2 linked regions of the Homo sapiens genome follow. The protein of the gene in region 2 binds, or shares a complex with, the protein of the main gene of each other region. Each region holds a gene or a part of one and is shown on either strand. Other genes may lie near its edges.

Region 1 (3,654 bases), on a different chromosome or scaffold from region 2:
ACCTCAGCCTCCCGAGTAGCTGGGATTACAGGCGTGCACCACCACATCCAGCTAATTTTTGTAGTTTTAGCAGTGATGGGGTTTCACCATGTTGGCCAGGCCGGTCTTGAACTCCTGGCCTCAAGTGATCCGCCCATCTCAGCCTCCCAAAGTGTTGGGATTACAGGTGTGAGCCACTGCGCCCAGTCCACTTTAGGTATCCTTAACCCAATTTTAAAGATAAGCAATGGAGGCACAAAGAAACAACCTGCCCACAACTAAATAGAAGGTAACAGCTGGTAACGTGACAGATTTGTACCCAGGAAGACTGGGGTTACTTCTATAACCTTTTTTAAAAAAAGGAATTGAGACTGTGGACAAGGTAAAAATATTACTTTCATACACTGCTACTAAAACTATATTGGAAAACCCTTTCTAGGGCAACTTGGTAATATGGATCAAGTCTTAAATAATATTTTTACATGCTTTAATCAAGTATTCTACTTCCAGGTATTTACCTTAAGAAATAAGATGCACACAAATATGTAAGCCCAAGAATGTACATTAGAGTATTATTCATAATTTCAAATAAATTTACAGACAACCTAAATGTCCAACAGAATGGTTCAAAACATTTCCCCTTTTCATCATATTGTATAATTATAAAATTACCACTATAACAAATTTTAAAGATATAATAGTAGATGTCATTTGTTTCCCAAACCCACTTCTCTGACATGACAGTTGACAGCTTAGTGTATATCTATCTTCTCTTTATACTGGAATATAATTATTTTTTCTTTTTTTTTTTTGAGATGGAGTCTCGCTCTGTCGCCCGGGCTGGAGTGCAGTGGTGCGATCTCCGCTCACTGCAAGCTCCGCCTCCTGAGTTCACACCATTCTCCTGCCTCAGCCTCCCAGGTAGCTGGGACTACAGGCGCCCGCCACCACGCCCGTCTAATTTTTCTATTTTTTAGTAGAGACGGGGTTTCACCGTGTTAGCCAGGATGGTCTCGATCTCCTGACCTTGTGATCTGCCTGCCTCGGCCTCCCAAAGTGCCAGGATTACAGGCGTGAGCCACCACGCCTGGCCGTTTTCTTCTTTTTTTTTTTGTTTTGAGGCAGGATCTTGCTCTGTCACCTAGGCTGGAGTGTAGTGGCGCAGTCATGGCTCACTGCAGCCTCAACTTCCTGGGCTCAAGTGATTCTCCTACCTTAGCCTCCCAAGCAGCTGATACTACAGGCATGTACCACCACGCCCAGCTTATTTTTCTATTTTTTGTAGAGACGGGGTCTCCCTATGTTGTCCAGGCTGGTCTCAAATCCATGGACTCAAGCAATACTCCCACCTCAGCCTCCCAAAGCGTTGCAATTACAGGCATGAGCCACCACGCAGGCTGTTTTAATTTTTGAACCATGTAAATGTGTTCTGAAATAGAAAATAGGCCAGGCACAGTGGTTCACGCCTATAATCCTAGCACTCTGGGAGGCCAAGGCGGGTGGATCACCTGAGGTCAGGAGTTTGAGACCAACCTGGCCAACACGGTGAAATGCCATCTCTACTGATAATACAAAATTAGCTGGGCATGGTAGCACATGCCTGCAGTCCCAGCTACTCGAAGACTGAGGCAGGAGAATCACTTGAACCCGGGAGAAGGTTGCAGTGAGCCAAGATCACGCCATTGCACTCCCGCCTGGGCGACTAGAGTGAAACTCCATCTCTAAAAAAAAAAAAAGAAAAGAAAAGAAATAGAAAATAGGCTGGACGTGGTGGCTCATGCTTGTAATCCCAGCACTTTGGGAGGTCGAAGCAGGCAGATCACTTGAGGTCAGGAGTTTGAGACCAGCCCGGCCAACATGGCGAAACCCCATCTCTACTAAAAATACAAAGATTAGCCAGGCATGGTTGCGTGTGCCTGTAATTCCAACCTGGGATGCTGAGGCATGACAATTGCTTGAACCTGGGAAGTGGAGGCTGCAGTGAGCCAAAATCACACCACTGCACTCCAGCCTAGGTAACGGAGTGAGACTCTGTCTAAAAACAAAAACAAAAAAAAACAAGCATATATTTCTGATCCTGTGCCAAAAAATCAAAAACAAATACATTTATATAGCACATGGCACAGAAATGAACAATTTTTATATTATGTTCAATATATACACTGCAAATAAAAACTAATCCTGGCCAGACGCGGTGGCTCACACCTGTAATCCCAGGACTTTGGGAGGCCGAGGCGGGTGGATCACGAGGTCAGGAGATTGAGACCATCCTGGCCAACATGGTGAAACCCTATCTCTACTAAAATACAAAAAATTAGCTCGCCGTGGCTCCTGTAGTCCCAGCTACTCAGGAGGCTGAGGCAGGGGAATGGCTTGAATTCGGGAGGCAGAGGTTGCACTGAGCCGAGATTGTGCCACTGTACTCCAGCCTAGCGACAGAGCAAGACTCCGTCTCCAAAAAAAAAAAACAAAAAACAACAACAAAAACTAATACTGCTGACTAGAATGAACTACAGGCACTGGCAAAAATCACTGACTGTAGTCACTGCACTATCATGACTATTCCTGAATGTTTGTGAAAACTTAAAAGACACTCATATATAAAACTGGGTTCTGTTTTTGCAAAAACCACAAATCAATTTGTTTTGGATTTTACCTATCTTATGGTATCCATTTACAGTCTTCACAGAGCCCTTCAAATTCCTAGGTAATATTTGCAGCCTGTTAGAAACTATACCACTACCGATGTGAGAATTCTGTATTTTAGAAAACAGAATTTACCCTCTTTTTAATTTCTTCTTGCCTTTTCTTCTGTTGCCGTTCTTTCTCTTTTATCTTCTCTGCTATTTTTTTCTTTTCTGAAATTTTTACCTCTAAAAGTAAAAAAAAGTTTTATTCAGTTATACTGAGTATTTTCCAGTTTATGGATGAGACAGACATGATACTTGTATACTATTAAGAGACCAAACCTTTCCCAGCTTCAAACAGTGATTTTTCTCACAAATAATGGGAAACTTCTGGGACTCTTCCTTCTCCTCTCTAATGTGACCCCTAAGATCCAAATATCTCTTCATATTTCCCCACCGTCCTATAGGCAGGGCTTAGATCATTCAACTATAATTAATGCCAGAACCTCTACCCTTTCCTACTAACAAGCACTCATACAGAAATACAGCAAGTATCTAATCTGATTATATTTTGAGGCGATAGAGAAAAGTTGCAGGGAAAACAGAATAAAGTGGGAATGGAAGGACACTTGGTTTCTAAATACCAAAATGTTCCATTTTGTGAGCGTTCTGTCATTTGTCTTAATACAAGTCACAAATGCTCAGCAAGACATAAAAACAAAAATGGAGGCGCCCCAGTGGCTCACCTGGTTTTACTTCTGCTTCCTCTTTTTTTTCATCATCATCGTCATCCCAGTTATCCTAAAGAAAAGGACTTCCATTAATAATTCTTGCATGTTTGCTTTTCTATGTGAACTTTATTATCAACTTGACTAACTCCAGAGAAATGTTTGTTGGTATTTTTTTGTACTGCATTAAATTTATAAATTAATGTAGGGGGAATTGACATCTTATAATGCTGAGCTGCCCTAACCAAGAATAAGAACTGTCTTTCCATTTGATCAAGTACATTTTTGTACCTTTCAGAAGTGTTTTAAAGTGATTTCCC
Region 2 (3,654 bases):
TCTACTAAACATACGAAAAGCAGCTGGGTGTGGTGGCACGTGCCTATAGTCCCAGCTACTTGGGAGGCTGAGGCAGGAGAATCACTTGAACCCGGGAGGAGGAGGTTGTAGTGAGCCAAGATCACGCCTTTGCACGCCAGCCTGGATGACAGAGCAAGACTCCATCTCAAAAAAAAAGAAAATATTAACAAAAAAACCCTACTATTATTACTAATAAAATAAAACCTATAGGCTGGGCACGGTGGCTCACATCTGTAATCCTATCACTTTGGGAGGCTGAGGCGGGTGGATCACCTGAGGTCAGGAGTTCGAGAGCAGCCTGGCCAACATAGCAAAACCCCGTCTCTACTAAAAATACAAAAATTAGCTGGGCGTGGTAGCATGCATGCACCTGTGGTCCCAGCTGCTCAGGAGGCTGAGACAGAATAGCTTGAACCTGGGAGGTGGAAGTTGCAGGAAGCCGAGATCACGCCACTGCACTCCAGACTGGGTGACAGAGCAAGGCTCCGTCTCAAAAAAAAAATAAAATAAATAAAATAAAACAACAACAAAAAAAAACCCACCTTAAATCATTCCTATGTCAGGCTTCCTCTACCATTCCTGAAAGACAGCACCGAGCTCTGCTTCCTTTAGCCCATGAGTGTCCTCTCTGCCTGGATCACCTTTGCCTACCCCTCCACCTAACTCGTTATGTTTTAGATGTTCCCTCCTCCAGGAGGCCCTGGTTTATAGTTTCTAGTTAAAAATACAGAAGAGTGAACAGTGGCAAAATAGGTCTTCCCTTCCCTGTCTCACAGCCATCCTTCCTGGGAGGTAACAGTCATTTCCAATTCTTGGGTACCTTTCCACCTTTCCAGACATTGTTCTATAGAATGTAAATACAGATGGCTGTGTTCATGTCCACATATTCCCCCACCCAAATGGTCAGGTGCCTACTCTGGCTCTTCTTTTTTTTTTTGAGACAGAGTCTCACTGTGTCACCCAGGGTGGAGTGCAGTGGCGCAATCTCGGCTCACTGCAACCTCCATCTCCCAGCTTCAAGTGATCCTCCTGCCTCAGCCTCCTGAGTAACTGGGACTATAGGTGTGTGCCACTGTGCCTGGCTAATTTTTTGTATTTTAATAGAGATGGGGTTTCGCCATGTTGGCCAGGCTGGTCTCGAACTCCTGACCTCAGGTGATCCACCCACCTTGACCTCTCAAAGTGCCGGGATTAGAGGCCTGAGTCATTGTGCCCGGCTGCTGTGACTCTTGTAACCCAACCCTGACCACTCCAGTCTATCACTGACTCTTCACTGGACTGCGACAACTTTGTGAAGACAGGGCCCAGGACTGTCTCAGTCACCAGTGTCCCAGCACTGTCCAGCACCTTGCCACGCTGGACCAGAGCAGGCACTTGTTGTTTGTGGATACACCCACAGACCATCTCCCTGGGAATTCATGCACCTTGACTCTGACCCCTTCCCACACACCCCCCGGCCCCAGTGCTGGAAGGATACATGTGCCTGGTCGATCATGCACTTGCACAGGGTGAAGTCTGTGTGCGGCAAGTTGGTGAGGGCCTTCAGCAGGATCTGGGCGGTGACCGTGGTCTGAAAGAAGGCTGGGTTGAACTGGTACCTAAGAAAAAGAACAAGAGACGTGGCCACAGTGGCACCTCCAAGTCCCCAATCCTCACCAGGTGCCAGGCAGCTGCTTTATTCTGGAGTTTGGGAATTGGACATGCCTGGGTTCCAATCCCAGTCCCAGTGCTTCCCAGCTGTGTAACCTTCACCTCCCTGAGCCTACCTTTCTCCTCTGTGAACAGGGACAGTTAATGCTCACAACTACCCAATGGGGCAGACACTGCTAAGTGATTTATAAACAAATGAGAACAGCAGCAGTGGTCTGGAGTAGTGGCTAAGGAACCAGAGCCAGACTGCCTCGGTTTAAACTTCCCTGCTGAGTGACCTTGGACTGCTTATTTATGACACGAGGAGCAGAGAAGAGAGAGATTAAGAGGCACTGAAAGGCTGAGGAGCAGAGAAAGGAAACTGAGGGGCTGACGGTTTCCTCCCTTGCAAAAGAGGACAACAGAAGGTGGCGGTGGGGGTGGGTAGGTGGGTGGCTCAAGCCTGTAATCCCAGCACTTTGGGAGGCCGAGATGGGCGGATCACCTGAGATCAGGAGTTCGAGACCAGCCTGGCCAACATGACAAAGCCCCGTCTCTACTAAAAATACAAAAATTAGGCTGGGTGCAGTGGCTCACGCCTGTAATCCCAGCACTTTGGGAGGCCAAGGCGGGTGGATCACCTGAGGTCAGGAGTTCGAGACCAGCCTGGCTAACATGGCAAAACCCTGTCTCTACTAAAAATACAAAAATTAGCTGGGTATGGTGGTGCGTACCTGTTGCGGGAAGTCAGGGACCCCAAACGGAGGGACCGGCTGAAGCCATGACAGAAGAACGTGGATTGTGAAGATTTTATGGACATTTATTAGTTCCCCAAATTAATACTTTTGTAATTTCTTATGCCTGTCTTTACTGCAATCTCTAAACATAAATTGTAAAGATTTCATGGACACTTATCACTTCCCCAATCAATACCCTTGTGATTTCCTATGCCTGTCTTTACTTTAATCTCTTAATCCTGTCAGTTGAGGAGGATGTATATCGTTCCAGGACCCTGTAATAATTGCGTTAACTACAAAAATTGCACAACATGTGTGTTTGAGCAATATGAAATGTGGGCACCCTGGAAAAAGAACAGGATAACAGCAATTGTTCCGGGAATGAGAGAGAGAACCTTAAACTCTGACTGCCGGTGAGCCGGGCAGAACAGAGCCATATTTCTCTTCTTTCAAAAGCAAATGGGAGAAATATCGCTGAATTCTTTTTCTCAGCATGGAACGTCCCTGAGAAAGAGAATGCGCACCTAGGGGTAGGTCTCTGAACGGGCCCCCCGGGGCGTACCTGTCTCTTATAGTCGAGATTGCAGAGGTGAAATAAACTCGTCTCCCATAGCGTTCCCAGGCTTATTAGGAAGAGGAAATTCCCGCCTAATAAATTTTGGTCAGACCGGTTGATCTCAAAACCCTGTCTCCTGATAAGATGTTATCAATGACAGTGGTGCCCAAAACTTCATTAGCAATTTTAATTTCGCTTTGATCCTGTGGTCCTGTGATCTCGCCCTGCCTCCACTTGCCTTGTGATATTCTATTACCCTGTTAAGTACTTGATGTCTGTCGCCCACACCTATTCGCACACTCCCTCCCCTTTTGAAAATCCCTAATAAAAACTTGCTGGTTTTTGTGGCTTGTGAGGCATCACGGATCCTACCAATGTGTGATGTCTCCCCCGGACGCCCAGCTTTAAAATTTCTCTCTTTTGTACTCTGTCCTTCTATTTCTCAAGCCAGCCAATGCTTAGGAATATAGAAAAGAACCTACGTGATTATCGGGGCAGGCCCCCCGATACGTACAGCTACTTAGGAGGCCGAGGCAGGAGGATTACATGAACCTGGGAGGCAAAGGATGCACTGAGTTGAGATCATGAGATCACGCCAAGGCACTCTAGCCTGGGCAAGAAGGTGAGACCCTGTCTCAAAAAAAAAAAAAAAAGGAAAGAAAGAAAGCACCCAAGTAAAATTAGCTGGGCATGGTGGTGCATGCCTGTAGT

What was found. Proteins that work in one complex are often made in the same cells at the same time.
Region 1: EIF3K (region 2) and EIF3J share a complex: the UniProt entries of both Homo sapiens proteins name them as parts of the eukaryotic translation initiation factor 3 (eIF-3) complex.

The regions. Positions count from the first base shown.
Region 1 is NC_000015.10:44,550,629-44,554,282, reverse strand, and holds part of EIF3J (eukaryotic translation initiation factor 3 subunit J), read right to left. Parts: intron 3,408-3,654; coding exon 3,353-3,407; intron 2,853-3,352; coding exon 2,761-2,852; intron 1-2,760. UniProt on the Homo sapiens protein: Component of the eukaryotic translation initiation factor 3 (eIF-3) complex, which is required for several steps in the initiation of protein synthesis.
Region 2 is NC_000019.10:38,622,042-38,625,695, reverse strand, and holds part of EIF3K (eukaryotic translation initiation factor 3 subunit K), read right to left. Parts: intron 1,620-3,654; coding exon 1,499-1,619; intron 1-1,498. UniProt on the Homo sapiens protein: Component of the eukaryotic translation initiation factor 3 (eIF-3) complex, which is required for several steps in the initiation of protein synthesis.